Linked DNA regions of Homo sapiens. The protein of the gene in region 1 interacts with the protein of each later gene in a pairwise test. Each region holds a gene or a part of one and is shown on either strand. Other genes may lie near its edges.

The links.
Region 2: the proteins of XRN1 (region 1) and KATNB1 interact in a two-hybrid assay, tested with the Homo sapiens proteins (one large-scale study listed by BioGRID).
Region 3: the proteins of XRN1 (region 1) and MAN2C1 interact in a two-hybrid assay, tested with the Homo sapiens proteins (one large-scale study listed by BioGRID).

What each region holds. Positions count from the first base shown.
Region 1 is NC_000003.12:142,420,401-142,424,048, reverse strand, and holds part of XRN1 (5'-3' exoribonuclease 1), read left to right. Parts: intron 1-406; coding exon 407-489; intron 490-1,126; coding exon 1,127-1,214; intron 1,215-1,298; coding exon 1,299-1,467; intron 1,468-2,505; coding exon 2,506-2,573; intron 2,574-2,895; coding exon 2,896-3,033; intron 3,034-3,648. UniProt on the Homo sapiens protein: Major 5'-3' exoribonuclease involved in mRNA decay. Required for the 5'-3'-processing of the G4 tetraplex-containing DNA and RNA substrates. The kinetic of hydrolysis is faster for G4 RNA tetraplex than for G4 DNA tetraplex and monomeric RNA tetraplex.
Region 2 is NC_000016.10:57,749,122-57,752,769, reverse strand, and holds part of KATNB1 (katanin p80 WD40 repeat-containing subunit B1), read right to left. Parts: intron 1,944-3,648; coding exon 1,843-1,943; intron 1,510-1,842; coding exon 1,468-1,509; intron 1,130-1,467; coding exon 1,046-1,129; intron 831-1,045; coding exon 715-830; intron 241-714; coding exon 169-240; intron 1-168.
Region 3 is NC_000015.10:75,358,519-75,362,166, forward strand, and holds part of MAN2C1 (alpha-mannosidase 2C1), read right to left. Parts: intron 3,430-3,648; coding exon 3,337-3,429; intron 3,203-3,336; coding exon 3,086-3,202; intron 2,864-3,085; coding exon 2,768-2,863; intron 2,674-2,767; coding exon 2,528-2,673; intron 2,171-2,527; coding exon 2,047-2,170; intron 1,694-2,046; coding exon 1,572-1,693; intron 1,471-1,571; coding exon 1,385-1,470; intron 1,258-1,384; coding exon 1,102-1,257; intron 921-1,101; coding exon of another isoform or gene 908-920; coding exon 810-907; intron 674-809; coding exon of another isoform or gene 636-673; coding exon 541-635; intron 291-540; coding exon 186-290; intron 101-185; coding exon 1-100. UniProt on the Homo sapiens protein: Cleaves alpha 1,2-, alpha 1,3-, and alpha 1,6-linked mannose residues on cytoplasmic free oligosaccharides generated by N-glycoprotein degradation pathways.

The DNA.
Region 1 (3,648 bases):
AGTTTTCATATACTGGGGCTATCCTGGTCTCCAAAAGAGTCCTGCATTCTTTGGTCATAGAAAAGCTGCTGCCTCTAATTTCTAACCAGTTCCCCCACGGCAAGTAGAAATATGTGAAAACCAAGAGAAGATGTTTGGGATTTGGAGGGATAGGAAGAGGAGAGGGGACAGGGGATAGGGTAATGGTTATGAAAAGCATGTGAGCTAAGGTGAACATATTTTTCTTAGAAAAGTACACTTTATCTCATTCATTACCTACAAATAGATCATATTTTGTTATTTGTATATTTAATGTGCTAATTGTTTCTTATTCTTCCTTGTATAGAATTGTTTTTTAATTGCTTTTGTGAACCTAATATTATTAAAAATGGGAGAATAAAAACATTTCTTAATCATTTTTCAACAGATTATGCTTGGATTAACAAGTCATGAGGCACATTTTTCTCTCTTAAGAGAAGAAGTTCGATTTGGTGGCAAAAAAACACAACGGTAAATTATATAGCATATATGTTGGAAGAAAGAAATTACGCCTGGATAGTAATTCTTTAACAGATACATGTTTGTAAATACTTTATCTCATTCCGTAGGTTGCCTTTTCACTATGTTGATAGTGTCCTTTGATGCACAAACGTTTTTAATTTTGTTATAATCCAACTCATTTATTCTTCTTTTTTTAGGAGTTTTCAAGTTTTAACTTTTATGGTTAGATCTTTGATTCATTTTGAGTTAATTTTAGTGTGTAGTGTAAGGTAAGGGCCCAACTTCATTCTTTTGCATGTGGATATCCAATCTTCCTTGCATTATTTGTTGAAAAGACCAGCCTTAAATGGGCCAGATCTCAGTAGTTTCTTACTTCTACTATATGTTATTTAGGACTTCTTAATTCTGAGAATCCTTCCACAGAACACATAATGTAAACCAATTGTTTTGAACTTTAACATGTATTATCTATTATTGCAATTGTATTTTTATCTTTGTTACCCTGCAACCTTCATATAAATTGTATGCCTTAATTACAAGACCTTACTATCTTCTGATGATACTTTTGATTTAAGCTTTGTTACATTTTTAAGCTGGGACCTTAAAAATAAAATTCACTGTATCTTGATCATCTGACTAATTCCAGGGTATGTGCTCCAGAAGAAACTACATTTCACCTTCTACACTTGTCTTTAATGAGAGAGTATATTGACTATGAGTTTTCAGTATTAAAAGTAAGTATTAATAAAGCCATGGACCAAGGATTTCCATTGCAGAAATTTTCACTGGATTTGACTTTGTTCTCTATTTTACTGTAGGAAAAGATCACATTTAAATATGATATTGAAAGGATAATAGATGATTGGATTTTGATGGGGTTTCTTGTTGGTAATGATTTTATCCCTCATCTACCTCATTTACATATTAATCATGATGCACTGCCTCTTCTTTATGGAACATATGTTACCATCCTGCCAGAACTTGGGGGTAAGAAGAATTTAATAATCTCTCGAGGATACTTTAATTTAGTGCCACCTTACCCTAAAAATGTGACTTAGTTTAGTAGATTATTGCATGCACGCTAAAGCAGAAAAACATTGAGGATTTATTTTGGTCTAAGGTGCTAACCTCTGAGGTTGTCATTTTCAGTGATTCACAAGGAAAGAAAGTGAACAGAGTTAACGAACCTCAATTATTGATATCTAACTAATCTTTGCCTTTTTTTTATTATTTATTTATTTTTTGAGACGGGGTCTTGCTCTGTTGCCCAGGCTGGAGTGCAGTGGCGACAGTGCAACGTTTGCCTTCTGGATTCAAGCTATGCCCATGCCTCTGCCTCCTGAGTAGCTGGGATTACAGGCATGTGTCACCATGCCCAGCTAAGTTCTATATTTTTAGTGGAGATGGGGTTTTACCATATTGACCAGGCTGGTCTCAAACTTCGGCCTCAAGTGATCTGGCTTCCCAAAGTGCTGGGATTACAGGCATGAGCCACCACACCCGGTCTAATCTTTGCCTTTAATTCCTTAAGAAAGCCAGCATACTTTATTGGTTTTACTTTTTTCATATTTAAGCATAGAAATTCAATTTTTTTCGAATGGATATGCATCACAGTGTTTATTATGAAGCAGTGATTTTTCAATGAAAACAGAAAATTGACAAACATAGTGATGCCAAATAAAACAGACCACAGGGTAGCAGAACATCAGTCCTTAAGTTAACATATCATATTAAATGATCTAGATAGATTATAGACCATATTTAATTTAATTAATTGTTACCAAATGTTGGATTATTATGTGGAACCTGGAATTTCTTATATTTGGCTTTGGTGCTTACATGTTGCATATTATAGTAGCATAAAATTCACAGAAACTAGGGCCAGTTTGGATATAGTCCAACACTGTTTTTTCTTGATTAGTACTGTAGAACATGAACATTCAACATTTTGTAGAAAGAGTTTTGTAGAATTGTTTAGAAAAAATGTCAGCTTTTAGTACAGATTTAAATTTTTGTTTCTTTTAGGTTATATTAATGAAAGTGGGCACCTCAACTTACCTCGATTTGAGAAATACCTTGTGAAACTATCAGATGTAAGTAACTAGAAATTTTTGGTTTCCTGTCGCAGAGTAGCTGTAAATGATCAGTCACCAATTATGTAATACCAGAAGAAAGGGGTTTTATAATTCTATTCCAATTGCTTATTCAATATAAACACTTTTACCTAAATTAATTTTATTTTTATTTGCTTTCTATTTGTATTTTTAGAGTAACACATGAGGTCTCCCATATATATAAAAGAGTAACATTCTCCAATTTCCTATACCCCAGTAGTAGTCACTGTTTTAAGTTTGATTTGTATTCTTCTAGATATACTTAAATTATTTAAAAATAAATTTAAATATTTCTGTACAGTTTGATCGGGAGCACTTCAGTGAAGTTTTTGTGGACCTAAAATGGTTTGAAAGCAAAGTTGGTAACAAGTACCTCAATGAAGCAGCAGGTGTCGCAGCAGAAGAAGCCAGGAACTACAAGGAAAAGAAAAAGTTAAAGGTGTCTATTTTTTTAGGTGTCCTTTCATTGTTTTAACTGTAAAGGCAAAAATTATATTCTTTGTTTCTCATTTTCCTTCTTATGATTTGGGATTGCCTCGTTTTATTTCTCTTCCTCTCTATAGGCATTTCAGAAATTGATTTGGTTTCTTTTTTTCTATTAGCTTCTGTCATTTAATGAGATCTTCAATAATCAGTTCCTTATTTTTACTGTTGAAGAGGTACATTGTGTTTTATGTTAATAAATGTGGAAAACATTTCTAAACATAAAAGCCCAGAAAATGAATTATTTTCTGGGCTTTTTAAAAAAATTACTTAAAACATGTTATTAAAAACAATTATTTAAGGCCAGGTGCAGTGGCTCACACCTGTAATCCCAGCACTTTGGGAGGCAAAATGGGTGGATTACCTGAGGTCAGGAGTTTGAGACCAGCCTGGCCAACGTGGCGAAACCCCATCTCTACTAAAAAAACAGAAATTAGTTGGATGTGGTGGCACACACCTGTAATCCCAGCTACTTGGGAGGCTGAGGCACGAGAATCACTTGAACCTGGGAGACAGAGGTTGCAGTGAGCCAAGACTGAGCCACTGCACTCCAGCCTGGCTGATAGAGTGA
Region 2 (3,648 bases), on another chromosome or scaffold:
GGCGAGAGATGGCCGTGGGTCCTGTGGCACCCAGCCTGGTCCCCACCCCGAGGAATCCAGAGGGCCCAGGGCAGGGAGGGCGCAGCAGCGGAGATGGGAAAGGCCCACCCACAGCCACGCCCCACTGCCGGGAGGAGCGCTGGGCCGCCCACCCCACAGCCTGCGTACCTGACGGGCCCAGGCTCCCCTTCGATGCAGCTCACCACCTGGAACTTCTCCAGGTCCCAGAAGCGGATTGTCCTGCAAAGGCAGCCAAGCTGTGCTGCGAAGCCTATCCCTCATCCTGGCCTCCACATGTCCCTGGGAAGCCAGCTTTTCTCTAGAAACCTCTCCCCCAGGGCAGGGCCACCAGGAGCAACATCTGGGGCAGAGCTGGCCCTGACTTTGCAAGGGGGAGGCTCGGCCCGATGGCCCTGGCCCCAGGGTTGGCCCCAACAGCCACGAGCCTCCCTGCCCTATGGGGTCCCACTAGATGCCTTGGGTCCCAACCTGCCCATGAAGCCACAGACCTGGGACACTGGGGCCAGGGAACCAGAGCCAGGGGAGATGGACCAGGGTCCAGTCCTGGCTCGGCTGAAATCCAATTCAGTCCACACAGGATCATCAGACGTATGACACCCCAGACAGCGACAGACCGGCAGTAGAGACACGCACAGAGGACAAGGCGGTGAAGGACAGCAGTCACAAGCAACTCGCCTCGCTCCTCCTCCTCACCTGTCAGAGCTGCCGGAGGCCAGGAGGTACTCGTTGGGGTGAAACTCGACCACGTTGACAGGCCCCGTGTGACCAGGGAACTCAGACATCATCTTGCCGGCAGTGAGATCCCAGAGCTGGAGGCAGGGCAGGGAGGAGGTCAGGGTGACCAGGCATCTTGGCTGCCCACCCTCCCTCTAATCCAGGCCAAGCTCTTTATCCACAAGCTACCTTCCACTCGGGATAGGCTTGGGACATGTGAGCCCGATCAGGAGGGAGGTGAGGACTCAGCCTGCTGTGATCAGCAGACCCCAGCCCCCAGCCCCTGGGCCCAGGTCAGGCCGGGAGCTACCTTCACGGTGTGGTCATCTGCGGCCGACGCCAACCACTTCCCATCGGGGCTGAACCGGAGACACCGCACGGCCTGGCTGTGCCCCTGAGGGAGGACACGGCATGAGCTCACCCTGGGATCCTGGGCCCAACAGACCTCTCCCTGCCTCCTCACTCCTATGGGACCCCTTCCATCTAACAACACTGGTTACCCGCCTGGTTCTGCTTGGAGCAGTTTGATGAACGTGGCTCTAGGGGATTCATGCAGAGCCAGGGGATCCAGGTGGGCCGCCCATGGCGCTCCTGCTCAGCTCCAGGTCTATGTTTTATGTTATCACCCATGTGGGACAGCCGTCCCCTCCACCCCCTGCTGGGGTCTGGGCACCACACCACACTCAATGCCCGCAAGGTGCTCATGGAGTCACCGACAGAGCGCATCCTTACCCTGTATCGGAAGACACAGCCTTTCCTCCTGATGTCCCAGAGCTGTGGGGGAGAGAGAAGCAGAGGGGCAGAGTCAGGAGAGGTCAGAGCCACGACTGGAGGAAGGTGTGCAGTCGTGAGCAGACGGTGGGGCCCAGCCTTCTCTAGGTCGTTACTCCCCACGGAGACAAGGACAGAAACTGCTCACTAAAGCTGGCATTCTGAGCAGAAGCATCTGGCAGATAGATGCCTGCCACCCGCTTTCCCTAGGATGGTGTGGATGTGGCTGCAGAAAGGGAAGAGGTCCCCTCAGCAGGCATCCAGCACTGAGGGCCGGGCCGGGCTGGTCCTGCCACAGGCCCAGCAGGAGACACGGGGCACGGACCGGCCTCTCACCTTGATGTTTGTGTCCTGGGAACCAGAGGCTACAAACTCGCCGTACGGGTGGAAATCCAGGCTGCAGATGTTGGCTTTGTGTCCCATGAGTGTGCGAAGAACTAACAAGAAGGAAAGCAGAGACAGTGGCTAAGAGGCAAATGAGAAGGCTGGCAGAGGAAGGGCTGCTGTGGGCATTTGTGTGTGCGCTTTTGGATTAGCTGCACAGAAAAATAGAACAATAACACACATTTTTAAAACAGTAGGAAACAATCAAGGGTCCCACCACCCTAACAACGAATTTTCTTTTCTTCCTTTTTTTTGAAAAGGAGTCTTGCTCTGTCGCCCAGGCTGGAATGCAATGGCGTGATCTCGGCTCACTGCAACCTCTGCCTCCCGGGTTCAAGCAATTCTCCTGCCTCAGCCTCCCAGGTAGCTGGGATTACAAGCATGTGCCACCACACCCGGCTAATTTTTTTATATTTTTGGTAGAGATAGGTTTTCACCACGTTGGCTGGGCTGGCCTCCTGACCTCAAGTGATCCACCCGCCTTGGCCTCCCAAAGCGCTGGTATTACAGGTGTGAGCCACTGCGTCCTGCCAACAACTAATTTTCCCACATTTCTCTTGAGAGGTGACAGCCCTATGTTACCTCAAGTCTGCAGAAATTGTACCACACTCTCCCCACAGACTGTGCTCCAGCGGAAGCAGAACCAGGGAACCACCACACTCAGTTCAGGCCCCATGGGTGTGGAGCTTATGGTTTGCAGGGCACTGAACCCCACCCAAGACAGTGCAAGGAGAGAGACAGACCAGGAGAGGTTCAAGCTGGGAGAGAAGCTGCTTGGTTGGAAAGAGAAATCCAGGAAGGCTTTATGGAGGAGGTGGTATTTGAGTAGATGTCAGTGGGTGGAGGATGAGGGATGCTGTTAGGTAGATGGAGGTGATGGGCAAAGGCCCTAAGAAGGGCAAGTGGAGGGCATGGCTGGGGTGGCCCTGGTGCACACACCAGTCTTCTTGGGTGACCTCTGTCCAAGGGATCTTGAGGGTGGCTGTGAGGACACACTGAGGAGCAGTGAGAACTGAGAGGACACAGGGAGGACACGCGAGGACCAAAGAACTCCTGGGGTGGGGCCTGATCGCCTCCCACTGCCCTAGGAACCACATCTCCTATCCTTTCCTTGAAGGTTTTGCAGGCATCTCCATGGCCAGGAGCGGCCCAGCCTGGAGGCAAACCTTGTGTGTTTCAGGGTGTCCTCCAGTACCACTCAGATTTGTCTCATGTTTCCTGCTTTTGGAAAGATTCATAATTCACTATCTGAATGAAACTGACCATCCCAAGTGCCAGGGTCAGGAAATGTGGGAGTCCAGCCATTCTTAGTTTTGAGCCAAGGTGCAATAGGTCACCTTGTGAGGTAGTGAGCTCTCTGTCAGAGGAGGTATTCAAGATTCCATATATAACACTTTACTGCAGAGTCAAGATCCAAGCACTGGGTGAATTAAATGAACTCTACTGTATGATCTTCTCTACCCCCAAAGTCAGGATGTGGGCTCTGGCATCAGACAATACTGGGATCAGCCTTGGCTCCGCTCCTCACTGGTGGTGTGACCCTGGCCAATCACTTACTGTCTTTGGGCCTCATGTTGGGTCACAGAATGGAGTAAACATACATAAAGTGCTTAGCACGGGCTCTGCACATGGTAAGTGCTCAATAAATGCCAGTCTTAATTAGTCCCATTCACATTTCTTCCTGCACAAGGCCTGCCTTCTGCTCTTGGCTGTCCCGCAAGCTGGGCCTTCTCTCCTCCTCCCCAGGCCTCAGTGCCC
Region 3 (3,648 bases), on another chromosome or scaffold:
CCGACTGTTGGGGCTGATCTGTAGCAAGAACCAGGCGCTGCCCCGCAGGCCGCCCTCGGTGCCCACTGCCAGGGTCCCTGCCTGGCCCAGCACAGGCTTCCTATGGGACAGGGGTGGACATACTGATCCAGAGCAGCCTGTGTTCCCACCACCTCCACCATCCCCACATGCTGCCCAGCCTATACCGTGTCTCCAGGTGGTAGTCCATGACGTCCCATGCATCCCAGTACAAGGGGACATCATCAAATAGCACAAACTGGTTCCCCACGGCGCCCTCAGCAATGGCCTCCCTGGAAGGACATGGGATTGGTGCTGTACAACCAACTGACCTCGCTGTCTCCAGCTGCTCTTGGTGGGGTAGGGTGGAGTGAGTAGACCCAGTGGACAGGGGACTACTGCCCAGCCTGCCCTGCTCCATGTGTGGGTTCCAGCCCAGAGCCACTGGTGGGCTGCTGTGGGCAGTGTTGTGGCAAGGGGAGAGAGGAAATGGCCTGGGGTCTACTTGCCAGGCACTGGGAAAGGGCAATGAGGATTTGGCACCTGCCAGAGGCCACCAGGACCAAGGACGTCAGGCGACCAGTTGGGTCCAGCTTCACTCGGATGATGCCATTGTCCAGAGTCACGGAGCCATCAGTCTTTGTGGGAGGAGGCCTTGAGGCTGAGTCTGTAGGGGCTTCCCACACCAAAAGTCTTCCCACCCCAACCCCAGCCCCGCCTCACCACTTGCTCCAGACAGGGGAGCTCAGGACCCTCAGTTGTAAGAAAGTATCCCAGCACAGTTCCTGCCCCCCAGGGCATGCAGGACTCACCTCTTGCACTACGAACACAGGCTGCTGGGGCAGCAGGGGCTGCAGTGAGGTGGGGGGAGGAACAGGAGCATAGCCCATGCTGGGCACTGTCACCAGGGCTGGGGGTGAGGCCTGGGCATCAGTGCAGCCTTCCTGACCTTTCAGGAAGCTTGCGCAGGTGGGGATGGGTTGGTGGAAGATGTGCTACTACTCTCCAGTCAGGGGCACCCAGATCCCTCGGGGTATCCCAGGCCTGATCTGTCTGGCCTCCATCCTTCCTGCTGCAGTAGCAACCCTTCCCCTCAGCTCGTACCTAGGCTGTGGGCCCCGCCCGGTTTGGGCAGGGCCATCACTTCGATCCGCTTCCAGGGCAGTGTGTTGACGATGAGGAGGCCCTCAGGACCTGGCTCCCCAGCACACAGGGCTGCGGCTGCAGCGCTGAGCAGTGTATTGCCATGGGAACGGATGTCTGAGGAAAGACTGGCTGGTCATAGGTGGGCAACAGGTCTGGAATGTGCCCATGGGTATCCCACAGGGGACACTCTGGGCTCAGCCCTGGGGTTGGAGAGAGCAGGCAGGACTATTGTGAGCCTAACCTTCATAATGGCACATGGCTTCCTCTGCCACCATCTGGATGCAGCTTCCAGTCACCACATCATGGAACTGGTTCAGAAGAAGGAGCCTGCAGGGGCCAAGGGCAGGGATGGGAAGGCTGGGAGGGGCAGGCACAGAGGTAACTGCAGTGAGCAGTCAGGTGGATGGCAGGGACAGAACTGGGCTGACCTCCAGAGGTGCTGCAGCTGGGCTGCTGGGTATAGGAACTGGGCACTGCGGGCCAGGGCCAGGCTACTGAGCAGCTCCACGTCGTGCAGGATCCGCTCACATTCCCGGTTCCCCTTCTTGATCTGAGCCCAGGATGGGAAGATTAGTCTGGAGCCTGCTTAGCTGTCCCAGGACACCTTCCAAAGCCCTCCCTTGCTCAGAATCCCTGAGGACTCACCAAGGGCCTCGTGGAGAAGGCCTCTGGCGGGTGACCTGCCTTAAATGCCTTCCCTCTTCTCCCCGCAGCCCAAACCCTTCTTTCTTCAGGGGTTTCTGCCTCCTTCAAGCTTTCTTGACCAACCCAGGTCTTGAACTTCTCTCCTCCAAACTTCTCTTCCCCTAGATCTGGCCTGGGCTCTGTCCCCTGCTGCCTTCTCTGACCCTCTGCAGATCAAGGGCACACCCTCCCTGCACAGCCCTGCAACCTCCCCCTGACCTGGGCATGGGTGGTGTATGTGCCATTGTGCAGCTCCAAGAAGAGCTCCCCAACCCACGTGCACAGCTGCTCTGAGTCACTCTCCAGTGCTGAGAAGAGCTGTCTTGGAGAAGATAGCTGCACCCTGAGGAGACCACAAGCCTAGGTCTCCCAGCCTTGGAGACCACATGGCTCACCCTTCTTCCACACCAAAGCAAAGGATCCAGCTCCTACAGAGAGGAGCCACTCCAGAAAGCTCCCCGTTCACAGATGGCCAGCCCTGGACGCCCTAGGAGAGCCTCTCTCTCTGATGGGCTGGAGCCCTTACCAGCTTCAGCTTCTCCCCCACCCACCCCCAGGGTGGAAGTTTGGAGGAACCCGTGGTCTAGGATTGGGACAGGACAAGGTCCAGAGGAGGGGTTGGGCCCAATGTCTGAGGGAAGGCAGGGCTCATGGCAAGGGCCCAGGGTGGGGCTAAAGGAGAGCCAAGGCCTGGCCTGACCTGGGCAGCCCATCCGTATTGCTCAGGCGCTTCAGGCGGTCCAGCATGGTCTGGGTGGGGCCACCACCCCCATCCCCAAAGCCAAAGAGGAAGGCACTGTGGTTGGCCCGCCCCTTGTCCCGGTTGTTGGCCACGGTCTTCAGCACCTAGACAGGTGAGGGCAGGCCAGCATGGATCAGCCTGGAACAAGCCAGCCCTCTCCAGCCTGCCCCTACCCCACCACCCTAGGTGACCCCTCACCTCCTCCACGCTGCCCTGCATCCCATAGGAGTCGCCAGGTGGGAAGTGGACCAGTACACGGGAGCCATCCAGGCCCTCCCAGAAAAATGTATGGTGCTACCAGCAGGGAAACAGAAGCAGGGCAGAGAGGCCAGAGTCAGGGCTGAGGCAGAGCCAGGCCTTCCAGACTTGGTCCTGCCCCTGCCTGCTATGTGACCCTGGCAGAGGCAGAGTGAGGGTTTGGTGGTCTGTCTAGGACCCCACAATAAGGGGGAGAGGCAAATGGGCCAGGCGGGACTGAGGCCCACTCTGACCCTGACCCCCCGGGGGCCTGCTTACTGGGAAGGAGTTCACCAAATTCCAGCTCAATTTCTGGGTGAGAAAGCGCCTGATGCCACAGCCGTGCATGATCTGGGGGAGCTGTGCTGAGTAGCCAAAGGTGTCCGGCAGCCAGAACTGTGGAGAAAGAGGATCCTGGAGTGCAGGAACCAGAGCTCCAGGCGGACTCACCCCAGCCTCAGCCCCTCAGCACTCCAAGTCGAGCGCCAGCCCCACTCGCCCACAGCCTGGTGTAGCAGCTCTCAGCCTACCTCAGAGCACATCTTCCCAAACTCCTGCAGAAAGAAGTTCTGGCCCTGCAAAAACTGCCTCACCATGGCCTCTCCACTGGGCAGGTTCCCATCCTGGCAGTGAAGGAAGTGGGAGGCAGCCCAGGTCAGCGCTGGACGGGGAGCAGGCAGGCGCTCAGGCCAACCCAATCCCTGCAGGAGAAGCCAGGGCTGCTCAAACATGGGAGTTACAGCCAGAACTCAGGAAGGGCCCCTGTCCTTCAGGCCTGACTGTCCATCTGCCTGAGGGGGTGCCCAGGACTAGGCCATGCAACTTGTCACAGCGCTGGAGGC